Linked DNA regions of Homo sapiens. The protein of the gene in region 2 interacts with the protein of the main gene of each other region in a biochemical or structural test. Each region holds a gene or a part of one and is shown on either strand. Other genes may lie near its edges. The genes, in order: ABI3, PAK1, ARPC1B, HACE1, TGFBR1, TGFBR2 and LIMK1.

The links.
Region 1: the proteins of PAK1 (region 2) and ABI3 form a complex in vitro, tested with the Homo sapiens proteins (one study listed by BioGRID).
Region 3: the proteins of PAK1 (region 2) and ARPC1B form a complex in vitro, tested with the Homo sapiens proteins (one study listed by BioGRID).
Region 4: of the proteins of PAK1 (region 2) and HACE1, one has a biochemical effect on the other in vitro, tested with the Homo sapiens proteins (one study listed by BioGRID).
Region 5: the proteins of PAK1 (region 2) and TGFBR1 form a complex in vitro, tested with the Homo sapiens proteins (one study listed by BioGRID).
Region 6: the proteins of PAK1 (region 2) and TGFBR2 form a complex in vitro, tested with the Homo sapiens proteins (one study listed by BioGRID).
Region 7: the proteins of PAK1 (region 2) and LIMK1 form a complex in vitro, tested with the Homo sapiens proteins (one study listed by BioGRID and IntAct).

What each region holds. Positions count from the first base shown.
Region 1 is NC_000017.11:49,220,707-49,223,725, reverse strand, and holds the end of ABI3 (ABI gene family member 3), read right to left. Parts: intron 1,657-3,019; coding exon of another isoform or gene 1,636-1,656; coding exon 1,501-1,635; intron 1,175-1,500; coding exon 1,011-1,174; 3' UTR 501-1,010; downstream 1-500. UniProt on the Homo sapiens protein: May inhibit tumor metastasis. In vitro, reduces cell motility.
Region 2 is NC_000011.10:77,355,595-77,359,094, forward strand, and holds part of PAK1 (serine/threonine-protein kinase PAK 1), read right to left. Parts: intron 3,424-3,500; coding exon 3,304-3,423; intron 249-3,303; coding exon 74-248; intron 1-73. UniProt on the Homo sapiens protein: Protein kinase involved in intracellular signaling pathways downstream of integrins and receptor-type kinases that plays an important role in cytoskeleton dynamics, in cell adhesion, migration, proliferation, apoptosis, mitosis, and in vesicle-mediated transport processes.
Region 3 is NC_000007.14:99,377,730-99,381,229, forward strand, and holds part of ARPC1B (actin-related protein 2/3 complex subunit 1B), read left to right. Parts: intron 1-3,500. UniProt on the Homo sapiens protein: Component of the Arp2/3 complex, a multiprotein complex that mediates actin polymerization upon stimulation by nucleation-promoting factor (NPF).
Region 4 is NC_000006.12:104,783,420-104,786,919, forward strand, and holds part of HACE1 (E3 ubiquitin-protein ligase HACE1), read right to left. Parts: intron 1,901-3,500; coding exon 1,566-1,900; intron 1,067-1,565; coding exon 998-1,066; intron 755-997; coding exon 667-754; intron 1-666. UniProt on the Homo sapiens protein: E3 ubiquitin-protein ligase involved in Golgi membrane fusion and regulation of small GTPases. Acts as a regulator of Golgi membrane dynamics during the cell cycle: recruited to Golgi membrane by Rab proteins and regulates postmitotic Golgi membrane fusion.
Region 5 is NC_000009.12:99,150,113-99,152,402, reverse strand, and holds part of TGFBR1 (TGF-beta receptor type-1 isoform 1 precursor), read right to left. Parts: 3' UTR 1-2,290. UniProt on the Homo sapiens protein: Transmembrane serine/threonine kinase forming with the TGF-beta type II serine/threonine kinase receptor, TGFBR2, the non-promiscuous receptor for the TGF-beta cytokines TGFB1, TGFB2 and TGFB3.
Region 6 is NC_000003.12:30,648,101-30,651,600, reverse strand, and holds part of TGFBR2 (TGF-beta receptor type-2 isoform B precursor), read right to left. Parts: intron 1,332-3,500; coding exon 1,141-1,331; intron 1-1,140. UniProt on the Homo sapiens protein: Transmembrane serine/threonine kinase forming with the TGF-beta type I serine/threonine kinase receptor, TGFBR1, the non-promiscuous receptor for the TGF-beta cytokines TGFB1, TGFB2 and TGFB3.
Region 7 is NC_000007.14:74,100,804-74,104,303, forward strand, and holds part of LIMK1 (LIM domain kinase 1), read left to right. Parts: intron 1-3,500. UniProt on the Homo sapiens protein: Serine/threonine-protein kinase that plays an essential role in the regulation of actin filament dynamics. Acts downstream of several Rho family GTPase signal transduction pathways.

The DNA.
Region 1 (3,019 bases), on a different chromosome or scaffold from region 2:
ACTATTTCTGTGCTGTCCACACTCTCTTGCCTCCCGACCCCCGCACTCCCTTCTAGCACCCCCAAAGGAAAAGCCAGAGGAACAATCGCCTCCTGGTGGTGGTACGAGGTAGCGCACCGTCCGGCTCGGGTCCGGACAGCCAGTAACCTCGCAGAGAGTGACGGTGTCTCCTTGCATCCCAGCCTCGTCTATGCAGCAAGAGACCAGGGACTTCACCAAAGTCACCCTCGCGGGCTGGGCCTTCCACGCATCCCCCCCACCCCCCATGGAACAGAAAGCCATGTTTTTAAGCAGAACCAGCGAAACCCAAGCCCCTCCTTCCTCTGGTGTTTTACAACTATAAAGGAGGTGAAGGGGGAAGAAATGACTGAGATCTCTCTCGCGACAGTCTCAGAGTTGACAGTGAGGTGCTCTCGGAGAGCCCCGCTTAAGTCATGGAGATCGTTCCCACTCTTGGGCAAGTGCCCAGCCACATATGAACACACCACACACACAGCAAGCAATGGGCAAAAGAACAAGTTGCAGTCAATGGCTGCAGAGGGGTGTCTGGGGTCCAATGTGGGCTGCACTTTGTGGGTACTGAGGAAATGGGAAGATGCTGCTTCTAGGTCAGCTGGTGGGTTGGAGGTTGGGGGCTGTAATTAGCAGCAGCCTTAGAACTGGGATGCCTTTCAATCCCTCCTGGCCCCTTATCTCTGTGGGGCAGTCACAGGACATCATCTGTTTTATTCAAAGTTGGGACTTGCAGCAGGAGACCCTGTCCTGCATGGAGTAGGGGTCCTCTGTTGACAAACTTCTTGGTTTCCAGCTCTTCCCCATCTGCAGCAGGCCTCTGGATAAATTCTCTCTCCCCAGGACCCCTTCTCCCTCCGATGGGAGGAAGGACAGAACACAGCTCACAGCCCAAGAGGTGGGCAGACCCAGTCCAGCTGTGACTGGAGCTGGTTTTGGCTTGGGGCTCATGAAACCCACTCAGTGCAGACATCAGCTGCCCAGAGAGCCCTGGGCTGTCAGCAGCTGGGCTCCACATAGTTCCCAGGGAAGAATCCAGTCCCCTCTGAGCTGACGCCCTCGCACCAGCCATCGGAGTAGCGGCGAGTGACACAGATGACAGTGCCCTCAGAGAAGGAGAGCTCATTGTCCTTCTGGCTGGTGTATGGGTACAGTGTCACCACTGCAGGGCAAGAGAAGAGGGTGCCGTGAGATAATGCCTCTTGCCCTCTCCCCCTCACCCCCCACCACCATGGGGATGCACGGTCTCAAGTACTAGACTCTAGGGGCCATCTTGGGGGCCTTCTTGCAAGCCTTCAGGACCCCTCCCCAGCTTAGTTAATATTTAATACCAGGCCAGCTGCCCTCTCCCCAGTTCTGTCAGTTCGTCAGAAAAATTGTGTGGGGGGCCCGGGGGATAGATTCACACCTTTGCAGAGGGAGGAGAATGGGGATCAGGGCAACAGAGGAAGTGGGATCCGGTGCCCCTCAGTCCCAGAAGTCAGGTACCTTTCTCCAAGTATGAGGCAGGCACCCAGCTGGGCTCATCAGGCCCAAATCCTGGTGGGGGTGGAGGCAGCCCCAATTCATCTCCATCCAGGGGTGGAGGAGGAGGCAGGTCCAGTGGCAGGGGCAGCTCTTCGTCTTGGGGGAAAAGCAGAAAGGCTGTAAGTGTGGCACAGGAAGCTCCTTCAGTGTGTCAGGGAACTGCTCAAGAGCTGGACCCCAGAATCCACCCATCTCAGCGAGGCACGTTGGGAGGCCAAGGCGGGCAGATCACCTGAGGCCAGGAGTTCGAGACCAGCCTGGCCAACATGGTGAAACCCTGTCTCTACTAAAAATACAAAAATTAGCCGGGCATGGTGGCACACGCCTGTAATTCCAGCTACTCGGGAGACTGAGGCAGGAGAATGGCTTAACCCAGGAGGTGGAGGTTGCAGTGAGCTGAGATCTTGCCAACACACTCCATCCAGCCTGGATGACAGAGTGAGACTCCATCTCAAAAGAAAAAAAGAATGCACCCATTTCATGCAATCTTCCTCCAGCCCTCTCCTGTCCTGGTCTTCCCACAGTGCTGCTAGCACATAGTTAAGTGCTCAGTAAACCCTGAAAGATCCAGCAGTAGAGGACGGTCAGACTCTGCCTCTTATTAGCTGGGTGGCTCTTGGGCAAGTCACTGAACCTCAGCGTCAGTGGCTTCATCTGTTAACGGAGAGTGGTAAAGACCCTCTCAGGATTAAGTTTATTTTGTTTTATTTTTTTTTGAGACCGAGTCTCGCTGTGTCGCCCAGGCTGGATTGCAGTGGCACGATCTCGGCTCACTGCAAGCCCCACCTCCCGGGTTCACGCCATTCTCCTGCCTCAGCCTCCCGAGTAGCTGGGACTACAGGCGCCCGCCACCACGCCCGGCTAATTTTTTTGTATTTTTAGTAGAGACAGGGTTTCACCATGTTAGCCAGGATGGTCTCGATCTCCTGACCTCGTGATCCGCCCACCTCAGCCTCCCAAAGTGCTGGGATTACAGGCGTGAGCCACCACACCCGGCCTTTATTTTATTTTTTTGAGAGGGAATCTCCCTCTGTCACCCAGGCTGGAGTGCAGTGTGGTGATCTCGGCTCACTGCAGCCTCTGCCTCCTGGGTTCAAGTGATCCTCCTGCCTCAGCCTCCTGAGTAGCTGGAATTACAGGCACGCACCACCACGCCAGGCTAATTTTTGTATTTTTAGTCATGTTGGCCAGGTTGGTCTCAAACTCCTGACCTCAAGTGATCCGCCCTCCACAGCCCCCCAAAGTGCCGGGATTACGGCCGTGAGCCACCCCGCCTGGCCCTTAGGATTAAGTTTATTATTATTATTATTATTATTATTATTATTATTATTATTATTATTTTGAGATGGAGTTTCGCTCTTGTTGCCCAGGCTGGAGTGCAATGGCGCGATCTCGGCTCACTGCAAACTCCGCCTCCCAGGTTCAAGCGATTCTCCTGCCTCAGCCTCCCGAGTAGCTGGTATTACAGGCTTGCGCCACC
Region 2 (3,500 bases):
CTACGACCAGCAAATCTCTGTGCTTGACCAGTCATAAAACGAAGAAAGGTTCAGAAAGCTACAAATTCCTTACGTAATTTCTCCAAGATCTCCTCATCAGACATTTTAGGCTTCTTCTTCTGCTTCTCAGTATTCCGGGTCAAAGCATCTGGTGGAGTGGTGTTATTTTCAGTAGGTGAAATGGGAGATGTAGCCACGTCCCGAGTTGGAGTGACAGGAAGTGGTTCAATCACAGACCGTGTGTATACCTGCATTATTAGTGCAAAATTTTGGCAAGACCAGCCTTTGTTAGCATAGGGGAACCTCTCCTAGATGTGAGGTTAGAACATCCACAGAGCAAACCCCAATAAACTCATCCTTTCTCTTATGTCAAAATCTATATTACTCCTCCTCTGTGCCCAGGCCCACCCATTCTGGGTAAAATGGCCTTCCTTACTCTCACTGTAAACAAAAGAAGTGAGAGTCTCAGCACTAAAGATATTCAATAGAGGCTAGACAACTATCAAAAGAAATTAGTTAAAGACAATTCTATTAGATAAGAATCCCCTTCATCTGTAATATTTTATGCTTCCCCAAGCTAAAAGAAATATCCTGTATTCCCCAAGCTAAAAGAAATATTCTGTAACAAAAGAAATTAGTTGAAGACAATTCTATTAGGTAAGAATCCCCTTCATTTGTAATATTTTATGCTTCCCCAAGTTAAAAGACATATCCTGTAGTAATGCAAATAGCACTTTGCATTACTAGTACAACACCAACTTCTATTGAGTTACTCCCTCCTTACATCCTGAACCCTTGCAGGGAAGGAACTACTTTTGTTCTTCATCAAGAGGTAGTAGAGTGTGATGATTTAGAACATGGACTCTGGAACCTGACTGCCTGAACTTAAATCCCAACTCTTATTATTCTTACCTTCTGCATGACTTTGGGCAGGTTACTTAACTTCTCTGTGTTTCAGTTTCCTCATCTATAAAATGGTGATAATAATGATAACTATCTTTTGGGGTTGCTGTAGGAGTAAACTGATTAATATGTGAGGTAATCAGACTCATCCCCAGCAGACATTAAGCACTCAAATTTTACCTTTTAAAAATATTAAATGTCCTATTCATTCATTTACATAACAAACATTTACTGAGAATCTATTTGTTGCCTCACCCTGTACAAAATGCTGCCCCAACCTCTCATTCTTATAAAGGAGGTGAGAAAATCATAACTACAAGGCAGAAAGTGATACATGTTATAAAGAAATAAGCAAGCTATATACTACTGAGGTTCAGAAGTGATCATAAATTATACTTCCTTTCCCCAGGAGATGCTTCAAGGTATTTAACAGATTTTATCATAAAAATATCACAATTATCTTTTGCATAGTCCATAAACAGTATAAGGACAGGGAATGTGGGTCATTCATCCGTGAGTTCCTCCATCTAACCACTTACTAAAAGAAAGCAAGCATTCAGGTAAATATTTGATGGAATAAATAAACAAACAGGATCCTGCAACTGGATCCTGAAGGACGGATAGGTTTCTACAAAGATAGAGGATCATTTATCTATGATGATCATTTATCTGCGATGATGCAAAGCCATTGGCAACAGTGGGACTCAAACCCATGGCTCCACAGAGACTAAAGCCAACTACATCCTGCACCTTGGACTGCTTGACCATGCTACCTTTTGACTGGACAGGCTTTTAATAGGTGGAAATGGGAGAGAACATTCCAGTAGTGGGAACAGCAATAAGCCAAGACGCTGAGATCAGAGGCAATGGCTTCCTTCCTGATTACTACTCTAGCATAATGATTTCTCAATTTTCTATTCTTGTACCTGTAGACAAACTATATCCCAGGCACCTAAACCTGTACTTCCATGCCTTGTCCTCTTTTGCCTGTCCTGATATATCTCTTTGAAGACAGAAACCTTGCCTTTTCCTTCTTTAATAGTCTCCTTCTCTGGCTCCTAGCACAGGTTTGTACACACAAAAATACCACTGTGCTATGGTGGAAAACAACCTGGAGTTGGGGTTAATTACCTGCTTTCAAATCCTGGCTCTTTTGTTTACTAAGAGACTGGGCAGATCAATTCACCTCTCCAAATCTCAGCTGCTTCTTCTATAAATTAGGAATTACCAATACCTTTTTAGAAAGAAATGCTATGAAGATCAATTAATTAATTAATTCAATATTTACTGTCCTCTGATATTTACCCACCTCTGCAGGTGCCAAGAACTATGTTAAGCACTAGAAATACATACATATGGATTTCCTCTACTTTTTGAGGTGTTCATGGTTTAGTGGGGAAAAAAATGTTTTAAATGAACATGTCTACAAACCAAAAAAAACCATATCAGTGTTAACGACTCTCCAATTTTGAAGCGCATTTTCCCTTGAGGTAACTTTGTGACCTACAGAGATGATTCCACAGATTCTGTTTGTAAGTTCTCATCCTAATAGGTCATATAATTCCTTTGAATTTCCTCCACAGCATCTCCAATAGTCATTCAACCAATTTCTGTTTGAACACCTCCCTGAATGCTGTATTCCAGAGGTAGCCCTTTTTTTTTTCTTTCATGATCACAGAAGTGCTAGATGGTTCCTTCATTATGGAGCTCTCATCTTAGTAAAAGACCTAAACAAAGAAACACTAGTAGAGTATCATCTGATGGTAGGTCAGTGCTCAGTGATGCCAAATTAAGTAAAAGGCACAGGGACTAGATGTTTCAAAGCAAGGTTAGAGGGACCATGGCTATTCTCAGAGATGCAGGAACCTCAAAGGAAGTTAAATAGAAATCACTGCCAACATCCGGCATCAAAATGCACTCCTGATGCCCAGCATATTAATAGCACTAATGTATTTATATATTCTCTTGGGTCTTTCAATATTATCAATAATGCTCTAAGAGGCTGAACACTGCACATTTAACAGAGAAGAAAAGATCTGTAGCAAGACAATTTGTTGCTTCCCTGGAGACTGGAATAATTTATGTTAGTCCTGCACTAAGTAGCATCAATCCTATATATCTTCCTGTCCTATCTGTGGAGAACCGAGACTGGACTGGTATAAACATCAATTACCTAGGACACTTTGGGACTATCTGCAAACCAATGATAAATAAACACATGATTTTTTGTCTTTAATCATACAGAAAGTACCTTTAGTCAAGGTAGTTCAGTGATTTCACCAGCTCCAAAATCTAAGGACGCCTACCAGAATATTAAACTTCTAGGTATCAGCACCAACTCCTCCCTCTCCCCACTTACTCTAATAAATCACAAAACTGGCCAGGTCCCCAAAGACTCACAGATTTTGTGTGCTCTGGGCGTGGAGCAATCACTGGTGGTGGGGTAGCATCATCATCATCATCATCCTCATCTTCTGAAACTGGTGGCACTGCAGGAGTCTCAGACACAGCCTTCACATTCTGTGCAAAGAAGAAAAGCAAGATGCATCTGGTCCAGCTGCCATGGAACTTAACTATCAGGATCACCAAACCTCCCA
Region 3 (3,500 bases), on a different chromosome or scaffold from region 2:
GTTCAAGTGATTCTCTTGCCTCGACCCCCCGAGCAGCTGGGATTACAAGTGCCCACCACCAAGCCCAGATAAATTTTGTATTTTTAGTAGAGAGGGTTTTACCATGTTGGGCAGGCTGGTCTCAAACTCCTGACCTCAGGTGATCCACCTGCCTCCGCCTCCCAAAGTCTGGGATTACAGGTGTGAGCCACCGCACCCGTCGGTTGATAGGTCTTTTCTAATATTAATAATTACGTAGCATCTCAACATGTTAATGTCATAATTTACTCTTTCCATATTGTCACCTGGGTTTTTCCACACTGTCACCATTATAAAGACAGCTATTATAAACATGTTTGCTTTATTTTTTAGATGAGGTTTCACTCTGTCACCCAGGCTGGAGTACAGTGACGAGATCTCGGCTCACTGCAACCTCCACCTTCCCAGCTCAAGGAATCCTCCAGCCTCAGCCCCTCAGATAGCCAGGACTACAGGCGTACAGCATCACATCCCGCTAATTTTTTTTTTTTTTTTGGTAGTTTTTATAGACACAGGGTTTTGCCATGTTGCCCAGGCTGGTCTCCGAACTCCTGGACTCAAGTGATCCACCTGGCTTGGCCTCCCAAAATGGTGGGATTACAGGCGTGAGCCATGGCACCCCACCTGTTTGCTTTTAAAAAAGAAAAATGGGGCCAGGCGTGGTGGCTCACACCTGTAATCCCAGCACTTTGGGAGGCCGAGGCGGGTGGATCACAAGGTCAGGAGTTCGAGACCAGCCTGTCCAACATGGTGAAACCCCATCTCTACTAAAAACAAAAACAAAAATTAGCTGGGCGTGGTGGTGGGCACCTGTAGTTCCACCTACTGGGGAGGCTGAGACAGGAGAATTGCTTGAACCTGGGAGGCGGAGGTTGCAGTGAGCCGAGAATGCACCACTACACTCCAGCCTGGGCGACAGAATGAGACTACATCTCAAAAATAAAAAAGAAAAAGAAAGAAAAATGTGTTGCTGTTTTCTTAGGACCAAATGGGTGTATGTGACCAAAGAATGTTAATTTTCTTTTTCTTTTTTTTTTTTTTTTTTTTGAGATGGAGTCTTGCTCTGTCCTCCAGGCTGGAGTGCAGTGGCGCAATCTCGGCTCACTGCAAGCTCCGCCTTCCGGGTTCACGCCATTCTCTTGCCTCAGCCTCCCGAGTAGCTGGGACTACAGGCGCCCGCCACCACGCCCGGCTTAATTTTTTGTATTTTTAGTAGAGACGGGGTTTCACCGTTTTAGCCAGGATGGTCTCGATCTCCTGACCTCGTGATCCACCCACCTCGGCCTCCCAAAGTGCTGGGAGTATAGGCGTGAGCCACCACACCTGGCCAGAATGCTAATTTTCAAGTTCCTGTTAGTGTTATTCTGTTCTATTAATATTTGGTCCCACCCACTTGTTGAATTGAGTGCCCTTCAGAAGAATTAAACCAATTAGCAACAAATGACAATTTCTCCACAGCTCTGCTAGCATTGAATTTTGTGTGTTTTTGTTTTGTTTGGATGACTAACCGGTGCTTTAATGGTACCTTACGATTGTTTTCATGTGTGTTTCTTGACTTCACTCTGCGTGGTTGGTAAGACTTCAAGAGCAGAGCTGGAGAGGGAAGGATAGGGGTAGGAAGGGCTCTGACCCAGCATAGGAAGTTGAGTAACCGCTTAGCACGGTGCAAATTAGCCTGCTGGCTGCTCTATCCAAGAACTGCCTGAGCTGGGTGGGGACTTCCCAGAGCGCCTGTAATGCTGAGATCTTTCCTCCAGGCAACTCCTCCTTGGTTTAGCCTCTGATACAGCCAAACCTCTGGATTCAGGGAAACCTAAGGAAGCCAGGCAAGAAGGGTCCCGCAGCCTGTGCCTAGTCTAGCCCCAGCCTCATCTGGATTAAGATGGGAGGGAAATATTGGCTGAGGGCACCCAGCCAGTATGAAGACAGCTAGAATGTAAACCCAGCACAGTAAGGGAGAGAGTATCAAGGCCCAGGACTTTAGAGTGCCTCACCACCACCACCCCGCCGCTGGGCAGCCTGAGGCTTTCTTTGCCTGGCACCACCATGCCTGGCTAATTTTTTTTTTTTTTTTCCAAGTGGAGACGGGGTTTTGCCATGTTGGCCAGGATGGTCTCAAACTCCTGACCTCAAGTGATCCACCCACCTCGGCCTCCGAAAGTGCTGGGATTACAGGCGTGAGCCACTGTGCCCGGCTATCCCCTCCTCTCTCTGGTTTCTTAACATCAAACAGGCCCACAGTGCTGGCTCACAGGGCCACAGTGATAGTGGGTTGGTGTCCTGGATCCCTCCCCCAGGAGCCATCACTGAGACCTTATGCTGTCAACACTGGTGGGTGAAGCAGCCCTCGTATTTTTCTCCTGAGACATCCAGAGCAGGGTAATTGGCAGGCGGGGGTGAGCACACGCTGGCTCACGCAGGCTTGGTAGGTGAGAGGTTTTCCTGAGGATGATGAAGTTGGAGTGTCCCCGGCTAGAATCCCTGAGGCAGGAGACTGGAGCCCTGTGGCAGCATTGGCTGAGAGAAGCCACTCCCTTTTTGCTCTCCCACTTCCTCACTGGTAAGATGTGGGGGTTGGGGAGTTATCGCAGAGGCGCTTTGGGTTTCAGCTGCTTTGCAGAAGTTATGGAAAAAGGGAAATGAGTCTTCCTGTCTCTCGCCCCCTTAACACTTCTTTGCCCCATTTAAGGGGTTTGTTCAACAGACTAGGAAGTATTTCTGCTAATTCATGCTGAAGTGTGATTGGCTGATAGGTGTGGTCTCAACCTCCCTCCTCTGCCAGTCACTAGTGTACCACTGTGGCCATCTTTTCCAGCCCCTCCTCTGCCCCTTGAGTATGTCTAGGTCCTAGAAACAGTGGTCAGGGCTCTTCAAGTCCTCTCGGTTGCCCTTGCCCACTGGCACACGTGGGGGTTGCTGTCTTCAGCAGAGCCAGCCACTCCGTCTTGACAGCCAGGGCAGAGATGTGGCTGGGCACACAGCAAGAATGTGACCACTGATGCTGGGATGTCAGAGTCTGTGCATCAACCCAGGGTTCTGAGTCTGGGCTCTCCCACCCTCATCCCCGGAGGTTCCTTCAGTCTGGGCCTCCTGGGGCTGAAAGGGAGGGAAAAATTGGCCTCAGCTGGAGTCCTGGGGCCAACCAGAGCCTGGGTGGAGTGTGAAAGTGGGCTTCTGGCCTTCACCCTGCCCCTGCCCTGCTGGTGACCTTGGACCATGGGGGTTGTCGGGGTGTAGATGAGCACCGTGAATCAGTCACAGGCCTTGAGCTTCTCTCTGCACAGTGCTGGCATCAGATGTGGGTGGTGATGTCCCAGCCTGGGAACACAGGAAACGCTCAGGGAAACCCCCATCAGACCTGCTGACATGGCTGAGGGCGCTGAGATGGTGCTTCCGGGGCCCTCACCTTACACAAAGAGGCCTTATAAGGAGAGAGAGGCTGCAGAGGCAGCCCCAGTGGGTGCCGGGTGCTTGTTCTGGGT
Region 4 (3,500 bases), on a different chromosome or scaffold from region 2:
ATTGAGCATATATCACAGTCATTCCTGACAATTTATTCTGGACAATAGTTCTATGAGGCTGCTGTCATTATCTCCATTTTGTAGATGAAGAAACCAAGGGCTCAAGGATATTAGGAAACGTGCCCAAAGTTCACATAGCTGGTAAGGAGCAAAACAAGCTTTCCTCCAGCTAGCTTCATGTAACATGAGATGTATGGAATGAACAGGTACACATCTGGTAGGGGAAAGGTGGTCAGGTCAAATAAGTTAGGAGGATTAACAAAGCTAAATCACTATTTTTACTGAAGGGCTTCTCAAAGCCTTTTAACATGCTGCCAATGTGATTTATAAATTTCCAAAGGGCATATGTTATGTAATTTCCCAAATGTATTTGGGGGCTAAAATCCTTTTCAAAAGGACAATCAGCCTTATAGAACTAAAGAGTTTCATTAAGCTCCTTTCAGGAAATGTGGCAATGTGTTCTGTTGTTTTTGTACAGACCTCTGTACATAGTAGGCACTCAGTACATATTTCTTGAAGAAAACTTACTCCTCATATTAAAGTAACATGCAATCATTCCTCTTACAACAGAATGTCTGAAGTGTAATAATTATTCCACTAAACAGTATTAGAATTTTAGAAATTAATTTCATTAGATAGAATAAAAAGATGAAGAAAAATTTCTACCTGTGCTTTTATGATATGCATGAATCTTGACATCAACTCAGGACATTCAAGGAGAAAGTGAAAGTGGTCAAATATAATTTTGGGATTTCTAAAAGAAAAATATTTTGTTTAAATGGACAGGAAGAATGAGTAGCATTAAGTGAAATGCAAATTCAGATACACTGACACTGAAACAGAAGAAAAACACATAATAATCCATATCTATTAAAGTTTCATTTGTTATTGAGCATATTTTGAATAGTACGAGAAATAGTATTTTTTCTGTTTAGATGAAACTGTAAGTAAAGAGAGGAAAGGCTAGCAGGGTACTCCACAAACCCAGAAAGCTTACCTATTAACAAAGCATTTTAAAACTTCATCATGTTTGCAGACAAATTCAATGAAACGAGGTGAAGTCATTCTGTGGGGGGAAAACATCAATCAGAATACACAGGCAAAAGTTTGTGATATAATATAGCGAACTTGATAAATATATACTGAACTGGACTGGCTTCTAAACCAAAAAAAAAAGAATTTGGTTTTGAATCTTCTTTGTAAGTTTAGGAAACTGAAGTATGCCTAGCCAATTTGTAAAATGATTCTAACTTCTCATCAGCAGACGATATCAACAAGTGACTTTTTAAAAATCTTGAAATTTGGTGCATTTCTGCTCTACACATTTCAAATACATAATTAAGAGATCCTATACAAGGTGACATTCACCATTCTACAAAGTAATAATATATACTGCTTAATATTTAAATATTCCCTACTAGATCTAGATTAGTATGAGTATCTTAAAACAAGGAGAAAACTTTAAATCAACAAATTATTATTTGTTGTTTTTGAAATTACAAAAGTATCACTGCTTTTCATCATCTATCAGAGAAAAAAAAAATAATAAGCCAAAACTTTCTTACCCCGGAGGCATCTGACAAGAACAGCACATGTAAAAAGCTTGAATGACAGCACTTAGCCGGTTAGCTGTCATAGAAATAACATCCTGACAATCTGCACTGGCTTCCTGTCTCCCTGCAAGAGCATCTGGTTTAGATTCCCTTGTGCCAGTGGACAGATTTTCATAGCTCCCAGGTCCTGGAGGTTCAAATGGAGGAATGGAAGCAGCATCTTGATCTTGGCCTTTTTGTTTCAGTAAAATAGAAGTGATCTCTGTTGAGTCTCTTTTGTTTTTCATCAATTCTGTGGCTATTAAAACTAGCCATTCATCTAACGAGTGCCAAAGCAATTCCAGAGGCTGAGAGAAACAAAAGTGTTTTTTAAACATCATTCTTAAACTACAGGATTAAAAAAAAAAAAACAAAACACAACTAGACAAATATTATAGAAGAGAAAATTTACTCTAGTCATTTCTATCTTCCCAAGTTAACGTGATAGTAATGCCTAAAGGTAAGTAATAAAATTATACAAATGCTACATAAATGACAATTTCTTCATTTATGGCAATAATTTAATTTGTATGTATGTATTCCTTGTAATAAAAAGGAAAAACTAAATCTAACAAAAAATTCACAATCTTTCTTCTTTTAATTTTCAAATGTTTAGTTTTAAAAGCACACATTACTACTATATATAATCACCCTTAACATTTACTGTATTAATATGATCAATGTCAACCACTTTCAATTAAACAAATAAGATTTTTTCAGTTAAAAAATGAGAACCCCTAAGTATAATCACTCAACATTTTCTGTATTAATATGATCAATGTCAACAACTTTCAATTAAACAAATGTCTTTTTTCAATTAAAAAATGAGAATCCCTAAAGAACCTAATGAACAGCTTTTTTACTGTGCTCCTTTCATTACATATAATTCCTAGAATTTGGATAATTTTTGACAAGAAATTACAAAATGTGGCATATTTATGTATATACATATACTTACAGACACAATCCATTTCTAATAATTAGTGTTTTTTTAAAACAAGAGATACAATTACCAAACTTCTATTAAAATACTGACTAGCAGGCCGGAGATGGTGGCTCACGCCTGTAATCCCAGCACTTTGGGAGGCCGAGGTGGGTAGATCACTTGAGGTCAGGAATTCGAGATCAGCCTGGCCAACATGGTGAATTGAAATCCCATCTCTACTAAAAATACAAAAAATTAGCCAGACATGGTGGCACACACCTATAATTCCAGCTACTCGGGAGGCTGAGGCAGGACGATCACTTGAACCCAGGAGGCAGAGGTTGCAGTGAGCTAAGATCACACCACTGCACTCCAGCCTGGGTGACAGGGCGAGACTCCATCTCAAAAAAAAAAAAAAAAATACTGAGTAGCAAATTCTTAATTCCAAGTAAAGATTAACACCTTTCTATTAAAAAAAAAAAAGATGAGGAGAGAATAAACTATTTCCTATTATTATTCTAGCTGGGTACACAGGCATGCACTTGTAGTCCCAGTTACTGAGGAGGTTGAAGGGGGAGGATTGCTTGAGTCTCGGAAGTCAAGGCTACAGTGAGCTGTGATCATGTCACTATACTCCAGCCTGGGTGAAAGAGTGAGATACTGTCTCCAAAAAAAAAAAAAAAACAAACAAACAAACAAAAAAAAAAACCTGCTAGGATATTTTTAATCCCAAATAAAGATTAATAGTTTATAAGTGGTACAGTGGTTAAACAATCCCTTCATCCTACACTATTTTAAATATTCTTATTGAGAATGATTAGCTATCCTTCTGCAAATAAATATAAAAGTTTATCTCACTTTTTGAATCTGACATGATTACAGAATGCTACAAACTACACCATGTGCTACAGAAAGACTCACCTTTAAAATATTTCAAGGAAAGAAATAATCTTTCTTTTAAAGACCGCCATGGAAGGAGATTA
Region 5 (2,290 bases), on a different chromosome or scaffold from region 2:
AATTACAGGCTCAGCTCTTCAGACCTTACCCTGTCTTATAGGCGATACAACTGGCCACTGTTTCTGGCACAACTCCACTGCCACAGGAGCCACCTTGCTGCCATCCCACTCCTCATCCATGGCTGAAGTCAAAGCAGGGGCATCCCAAGCCTCATCTGCTCAATCTCCAAACTTGGAGACCCCTCCCTTCCACCTCTAATGACTGAAGGAAATGGAAGTGGGTCCCACAACTTCCATCAGCCGTTTTACTCTAGGTCTCCAGAGCAGCCTTCAGTCAAACGGCTGTGGGGGAGGCAACGGTCTCTGCGTCAGGGACCAGCAAGCAGGAGAGCAGGTTCCAAGAAACAGCTGGAGACAGAAAGGATGGACCAGGGATGTCTATGCCTCACTAAGTCGTATTTCCCCCATCCCCATTTCTCCTGGCTACTGACAAAATGAATATGGACGCACAATTTACCAGAAGATGTTTTAGCCACGTTGAATCTTGGAAGGTGAGCATCCTAGGATGGGCAGTATAAACAACTGTGTTTTTAAATGACAAAATTATTACTCTAATCAAATTTATCTGCAGTTATCGACAGTAATCATGATCCATCCCACCTTTTAAGTTTCTTTCATTTTCAATATCAGCCAATTGTGGTTTATCAAACCATCCCTAGCCAAAAAAGGAATTAACTGCAGTAATACGTAAAGTCAATTTAGAACTAAACTCCAACTTTAAAAAAATTCCCTGATTCATCAAAAGTACATTTTATCCACTTAGGTAAGAAAAGTATAATTGTAACTCAATCTTTGATTCAATAAAAAATATCTTCAGCAAAAGTGGATAACCTTACATGAAAGTGAGAAATCATGTATTACAACTTTAAATCAGACAACTTTTGGTATATTCTTAAAATTATATAAAAATAGTTTTAGTGATAAAATGCATTGGTCCCCTGGATTTCATAAAGCAGATCTGGTAGGCTTAGAAATGGCCCAAAAACAACAACAAAAAAAAAAAAACAAAAAAAAAACCCCCACAAAAAAAGTACCTGATCACAGAATTAGAGATTATTATTAAACAAGTAATACAACACAACTATAAAAACAAACCTCTCAAACTCATTCATTTGCTTCAATGAAATTATGGTAACTACAGAAAAAAACTCAACTTTGTAGTCAAAATAGTAACCTCTAAGCATTTTTCCCATGATGTTTTTAAACACATGAAATTGACACTAAATTCCTATGTAATATGTCACTCATTCTAAAATTACTTTGGTTTTAAGATCAAATAGTCTTTCAAATTTATTCTACGTATAAGAGATAAGACATTATCAGAATGCAACTCATTCAGTGTAAATGGCCACTTTCTCTTCCTGACCAAAATACTGTATGGGTTACTCTGACCCTGTATCGGGGAACTGATAGCACTATAAAGTCGAAGTCTTGCCTCAGAGCTATGATAGTTTTTTCTCCCCTCAGAATAAGATCACAGTGATAAAAGGACTTCGAAAACTGTAAAAGCCCTGCAGAGACTTCATAGCATTGGAAGTAAAAACCAGTTATTATAAGCTAGTTTCAACTTAATGTAAGAAGACCATGACAAGTTTGCTTTCAATATTTGACCAAAGACATCTGTAAATGGAGAAAAACCTATACTCAGAATGTTCTTTAGCTACCACCTCTCCCAAGTAACAAGGGTGCACTGAATGCATTACATAAATTACATGTAAGCAGTTGCAATGTACGCACACATAAGGAAACACTGAATTAAAAGCTGCCTTCCTCAAAGTGTAGTGAGACCTCAAAACCACACTAGCTCTAACCTCAGTTACAAAGACAGAGGATCCACCGAACGTTTACTCCTACATACATAACAAATGTGACTTTCTTGCACATCTGTTATCTATTCAAATTATTAACTACCTTCGCCTTCCTAGAAAAAGGCCTATTATTTAATATTAACCATATTCTAATTTTAAATGTAATTCATGTCTTAAAAAATAAGTCTTTGAACAGATAAAGAAAAAAATGGCTTACAGAATACCACATAACTTTTCACAAGCAGCTAGACAGACTTTCCCTTTTAGAAAAATTAGTCTGTATGCTACAAATATTAAAGTACTATAAGCATCTAGAGTGCCACTTGATTTTTTAAAAGTATACTTAGACAACACAATTAAAATGCAAAAGCTTGATGTGAGAATATTCAAACATGACCATGCTAATAATTTACTAATTAATGCCACTTCATTTCTTTAGTGGCTTAAGCACATTTTGGTAGGAGAAAGGCATTTTCAGAATA
Region 6 (3,500 bases), on a different chromosome or scaffold from region 2:
TAAGATCCATCGTGGGAGATAATATGAAATTCGAGACTAAATTAAAAGATGTACAGTATATCTATGTGTTCTATCTTGTTTAGAAGGAATTGTAAAAGTGGTTGGGTATAAAAAAGTGTTGCAAAATAATATTTATAGTATGATCAGATAGTTGTACTGAAAGATGGATGAGTGGATGGAAGGATGGACAGATGGATGAAAGGAGGGAAAGAGAAAGGAAGACAGGGAGAGATTGGGAGAGAGGATGGAGTGGGAGATAATATGAATGAATGATAGAGACGTGTGTGCATCTAATACATTGTCAATACAGATGATCTGTTGCATTGGGAGTGAGGGGAGGACGAAAATGTACTTTCATTTTTAATTTTCACACACTGTTGGATTGTTTGAAATTTTTGATGACGAGCATATACTACTTTTGTAATTAAAAACCACTGAATTCTCTTCTTATTAAAAATTGAGGGAATAGTGTATGCCTTCCTTTCAAGCTGAGTAAACGCTGAACTTCAAAGATGGAGGCTAGTATCTAATCTACTCTTCTCCTGGCTCTAGGGGTAAACTTTGGCTTATTATTTCCTCTCTGTATTGCAATGTTTCTCTCAAATGGGATCGATGACAAGTACCCTAAAGACAAATCCTGGGACTATGTACAAGAAACAACATCAGTTATAAAGAAAGTCCTCCTCCAAGATTAAACAACCCCATCCAAATCTTTAGAACAATAGTTACCAAATTTTAGCTGCACAGAATTACTGGGAGGGCTTGTTAAAATACAGATAGCTGGGGTTCACCCTCTATGTTTCTCATTTAGTGGGGCCTGAGAATCTGCATTTATAACAGGTTCCCAGGTGATACTGATGCTGGCTGCTCAAGAGGCCGCACTTTGAGAAACACTGCTCTAGGTGAAAGAAACTATTTGTCAAAGACAAATAATAATGTTTGCCCCAGTCAACCATATTTGATGAGAACCAGAACAAACCCTGCTACTCCCCAAGCCCCTCTTTCCACCAGCTGAATGAGCTCCTAATCCACTGTATGCAATCCACCACAGGAGGAATGTGCTCTATGACACTGCAGACCAAGGATACAAAAAATTGGCACAGATCTCAGGTCCCACACCCTTAAGAGAAGAAAACTCACCTTCTGAGAAGATGATGTTGTCATTGCACTCATCAGAGCTACAGGAACACATGAAGAAAGTCTCACCAGGCTTTTTTTTTTCCTTCATAATGCACTTTGGAGAAGCAGCATCTTCCAGAATAAAGTCATGGTAGGGGAGCTTGGGGTCATGGCAAACTGTCTCTAGTGTTATGTTCTCGTCATTCTTTCTCCTAGAGTGAAGAGATTCATTGGAAGCGAGGGGAGAGGGAGAGAGAGAAAGAGAATAAATGAATAATATGGCCTCCAGACAGAAAGGCAATCTGGAATACTTTTCCTTCATGAAGTTGTTCCTAACAACGGCAGCTGGTTCCTGTTCTCCAGCATTCGCAGGCTGTCCTATAGTCTCCTATGCTTTTCTACTCTTTTCTGTTTTTCCTTTGTTTATTCTTGGAACCCATTTGTGATTATAAACATCACCTGGAGCAGACAGCGTTCCACGGGGCAGTCCTGGTGGAGAACTTTACATATTTAAGTCTTAATTAAATCATTAAAGGGGAAGACATGGAAAAAAAGAACATTCCTAGGTACTCAGGATAATTTTAAATCTTCCATCCTGAATGTAATGCAAACCTCACATCACACCCCTAGTTTAAGTGGCAAAATCTGTCCTGTCTAGCTATACTGTTTTCAAAGAGCATGCCTGGGGAAATAGTCACAGTTCCTCTTTTTTTTGTTTGCTGGGCCCCAGAGCATTGCGTGTAAAGGGTATACTCCTTGTCAACAGCTGGTTCTGCTGAGAAAAACGGGAAGAAACATCGCAGATAAAGAACTGCAGTCTTTCCCAAATTACAGAAAGGAGCAATTCAGAAAAAACAAACAAACAAAAAAAACAAATAAATAAAAGAAATGGAAAGGGATGTCAGGGTGTTCTTCATTTACAGTTCAATGAAATATTTTATGCTGTCATAAACTAACTACTTTGACAGTATCACTTCATAGCACATATTTGAAGACTAATTTAGCCCAGGGCTCAGAGAATTTCTCACATAGCATTTTCCTTGGGCCCTAGGAAATGCTCAATTGGCCGTCAGTGTACATTAGATTTTTAAACAACATGATTAATGCCCACTATTATAATTGAACAAAAGAACATTTTGGCTCTCTTGGAAAAGGGTATCACCTCTCTATCTACCTCCCTCTGCTCCCTCATGAACATACTATCTTGGATGACTGTCCAACAAGGCTAGTCTGACATCCACCCTTTCACCTCTGTCCTTTTTAGATGCAAAATACCTGTTGTCTTGAATCGCATTCTCTCTGTCTAGAGAGGGAGCGGAAGGAAGGGCTAATCTGGTCCAGTCAGTTTTGCTAGAGTAATCTTCTATGAAGATTCTGAGTGCACACATGAGCCAATGCATGCATGTACTCACTCACCAATTTTCCCCTAATCCTCCCTGCCCCATGCACAAAGGCTCACTGCTCACAGCAAGGAAAACGGAAGGCAGGCTAGAAGCAAGAAGCAGCTAAGACACAGCTTGCACCTATAAAAGATGCGGGGCCATCCCCATGAGAGAAAGAGCAACTTTGACCAATACCACTTTTTTAGTGCTTAAGTCAAGGACATTAAAGGACAATATGTTGACAAAGGGATAAGGGCAAGGGTATGGGTTAGGACAATCCAGGCAGGAATGGTGCCAGTGTCAACATCCATGCAGCCCAGAGTTGACTCCAGTGGAGGTACATGTGTCTGCTTGTGAAGGGGCTCAAGGGTTCTTAAACTAGAATTCCGAAAGACACAAGAGGAGCAAGGCTTTGCTAAGTTGGTCCCTGCTGTGACAGGAAGAGTGACAAGCAGAATAATTGGTTGAGGGTGGCTATCAGGACACCAAATGAAACTAAATGAAAGTTGGCATGATCATACAACAAATGATGTATAATTTGGAAATCTACCCATCTTTAACCCCAAAGCTACTTGGCAGTCTTCAAATCAGCTGTAGTCATGGAACAAGAACACCTTCCTCCCTGCCCCCACAGTTTTGTGTGTGTGTGTGTGTGTGTGTGTGTGTGTGTGTGTGTGTGTAGGTTGTTTTTGGTTTGGGTAATAAAACGAAGGTATGCTGTGCCCACAGAAAGGCATGGTCTCTTTTCCTTGTGACGCTTATAGAGGCCTAAGAAGGAACTGTGAGCCATGAAAGAAAGCTGCTCTATAATTATTGGGCAGCTCTTCCAGAGCCTCCGGTTTTCTACCTCTTAGCTACTGAGAGAACTAACATCACAGAGAGAAAACAACTGTAATACTTGAGACCTGGTAAAGCCCTTAACTGCTTTCTCCACTCACTCCTGTAACAGCCAGGCACAGCTAACTTTTCAAACTCTTTTTGGATATAGCTGAGCATAGG
Region 7 (3,500 bases), on a different chromosome or scaffold from region 2:
CGGCTCACTGCAAGCCCCGCCTCCTGGGTTCACGCCATTCTCCTGCCTCAGCCTCCCGAGTAGCTGGGACTACAGGCACCTGCCACCATGCCCGGCTAATTTTTTTTTTATATTTAGTAGAGACAGGGTTTCACCATATTAGGCAGGATGGTCTCGATCTCCTGACCTCGTGATCCGCCCGTCTCGGCCTCCCAAAGTGCTGCGATTACAGGCATGAGCCACCACGCCCGGCCCTACCAAGTGCTAGCTTTCATTTGACGCAGTGAATGTTTCTTGTACACCTGGCAGGTGCCTGGCACTGCATAGGCACTGTTGAGATGTGAAGGTGGCCCTGGGGACAGAAAATTATACTGGGCTTGACTGTGTGTCTCCATCCCTTGACATCAGCCAAGCCAGCAGCTGCTTTACATACATGATGAGCAGACAGCTGCTTGAAAGAGATGAGGAAACTCCCAGACCAACGGCTCTTACCAGAGGGCCAAGGGAGGTCCCCACAGAGTCAGAGGCTGCAGCTGGTCCCTGAAATCCAGGCAGAATTTTAGAAATGAAGACAGTCAGCTGGGTGCAGCGGCTCATGCCTGTTATCTCAGCCACTTCGGAGGGCTGAGGTGAGAGGATTGCTTGAGCCCAGGAGGTGGAGGCTGCAGCAAGCTATGATGACACCATGCATTCCAGCTTGGGCGACAGAGCGAGACCCTATCTCTAAAATAAAAATGAAGAAGACAGTTAATGACGTCTCCTCCCTGTCTGCCTCACTGGGTAAGCATTCGCCCAGCCAACATCTGGAACATCCCAGTTCTGCAAAGAGCCACACCCTTCCCAGAAAGAGCCCAACTTGCCAAAGATTTACTTATTTGTTTTAAACTGGTTTTAGTTGACCGCTTTTCATTTTGTGTATAGCAGCGTTTTAAGGAAGGTCTAATTTATCCAGGCCACCTGCTGCTTTAGCAAACCAAGGGAGAGGATGTGAGATTCTAAGGAATTTACATATGTATGTCATATATATATATATATATATATAGACACACAATTTTTTTTTGAGACAGGGTCTTGCTCTGTCATACAGGCTGGAGTGCAGTGGCACAATCATAGCTCACTATAGCCTCAGATGCCTGTGCTCAAGCAATCCACTCACCTCGGCCTCCTGAGTAGTGAGACTACAGGCACACACCACCACACCCAGCTAATTTTTTAATTTTTTGTAGAGACTGAGTCTTGCTGTGTCGCCCAGGCTAGTCTTGAACTCCTGGGCTCAAGCAATCCTCCCACATTGGCTTCCCAAAGTGCTAGGATTACAAGCGTGAGCCACTATGCCTGGCTTATTTTTAAGGTTATATGCATGCAAAGCCTGTATCAATGAAAATATTTTCTTTGGTTTTTTTCAACTTTTCATCTTCGCATTTTGCAGATTTATAGAAAATTTGCTAAAATAATAAGTCCATTGAATACATACACACCCTTCACCAAGGTTCACCAATTCGTAACTGCCATATTTGGGAGTTATATGTGTGTCTCTCTATATATACATATATGGATACAGATACATATACATGTTTAGTGACTTGTTTATATTTGTACATACATGTACATGTTGTTATTTATTGATCGTTTGGGAGTAAGTTGCAGGGATCATTGACTCCCCCACAATTATGCTAGATATTCTCAAAAGAAGGACCTTCTCTTTTTTTTTTTTTTTTTTGGAGACAGGGTATCACTGTCATTGAGGCTGGAGTGCAGTGATGCGATCACAGCTCACTGCAGCCTCAACCTCCCAGGCTCAAGTGATCCTCCCACCTCTGCCTCCCAAGTAGCTGGGACTACAGGCACGGGCCACCACGCCTGGCTAGGCATTCTGTTATGTAATTATCAATTGTATCTTATAGTTCAGTGATCACATTTTGGAAATGTAACATTGATACCATTATCTAATACACAGACCATATTCAAATTTTGCCTATTGTCTCTATACTGAACTACTGAGCTGTCCTTTATAGCAATCTCCCCCTCATCCACAGTCCAGTCCATGATCAACATTGCATTTAATCGTCATGTGTCATCAGTATCTTTTTTTTTTTTTTTTTTGAGACGGAATTTTGCTCTTGTTGCCCAGGTTGGAGCGCAATGGCGCAATCTTGGCTTATTGCAACCTCCGCCTTTGGGCTTAAGTGATTCTCCTGCCTCAGCCTCCTAAGTAGCTGAGATTACAGGCGTGCACCATTATGCATGCCTAATTTTTGTATTTTTATTAGAGACGGGGTTTTACCATGTTGCCCTGGCTGGTCTTGAACTCCTGACCTCAAATGATCCACCCACCTCAGCCTCCCAAAATGCTGGGTTTACAGGCATGAGCCACTGCGTCTGGCCATTTCCTCAGCCTTTCATTGCCCTTCATGATCTTGACATTTTTGAAGTGTACAGGCCAGTCATTAAAGTAAAATGTTTTTCCTTTTTTTTTTTTTTTTTTTTAAAAAGAGACAGGGTCTCACTGTGTTGCCCAGGCTGGTCTCAGACTCCTAGGCTCAAGTGATCCTCCCGCCTCAGCTTCCCAAAGTGCTGGGATTACAGGCGTGAGCCATCGTACCTGCCCTCGCATTTGGGTTTGACTGATGTTTCCTCTTAGGGAGACAGGCTCTGCAGGTTTGGCCTGATACTGCATAAGTGATCCTCTGTCCTTCCGAGTGGATCTTGCCAGGAGACATATGATGTCAGTGTGCCCTTTGCTGAGGATGTTCACTTTGATTACTTGTTTTTTCTGTACTGTAAGGATTTTTTTCCCTTTGTCATCAATAAACCATTTGTGAGATTTGAGTCTGTAAATATCCTGTTCCCAAAAACCCTTCCCCAAATGATTTGAGCATCTATTGATGATTCTTGCCTGTAGCGATTATTACTAGGGTGGCTACCAAATGCTGAATTTCTAACTCTGTTCTTCCTTCTGCATTTGTTACTGTAAGGAAGAGCTTCTCCCCCATACGAGAATAGTCTTTTTGTTTGCTTGGTTGTTTTTTTGAGATAGGGTCTCACTCTGTTGCCCAGGCTGGAGTGCAGTGACATGATCATAGCTCACTGCAGCCTCGACCTCATGGGCTCAAGCGATCCTCCTGCCTCAGCCTCTCGAGTAGCTGGGACTACAGGCAGCACCACCATGCCTGGCTAATTTTTTATTTTTTGTAATGGTGAGGTCTCACTATTTTGCTCAGGCTGGTCTCGAACTCCTGACCTCAAGTGATCTTCCCACCTCAGCCTCCCAAATAGCTGGGATTACAGGAGTGTGCCACCATGCTCAGCTAATTTTCTGTAAAAAATGTCATAGAGATGGGGTCTTGCTATGCTGCCCAGGCTGGTCTCAAACCCCTAGTCTCAAGCAATCCTCCCACCTTGGCCTCCCAAAGTGCTGGGATTCCAGGCATGAGCCACCACACCTGGCCCTGTTTTTCTTAAAGTTCTCAGTCTCCTCTCTGCCTTACCCCCATCCCCTTTTCCATCTCCAGGACCTAGGG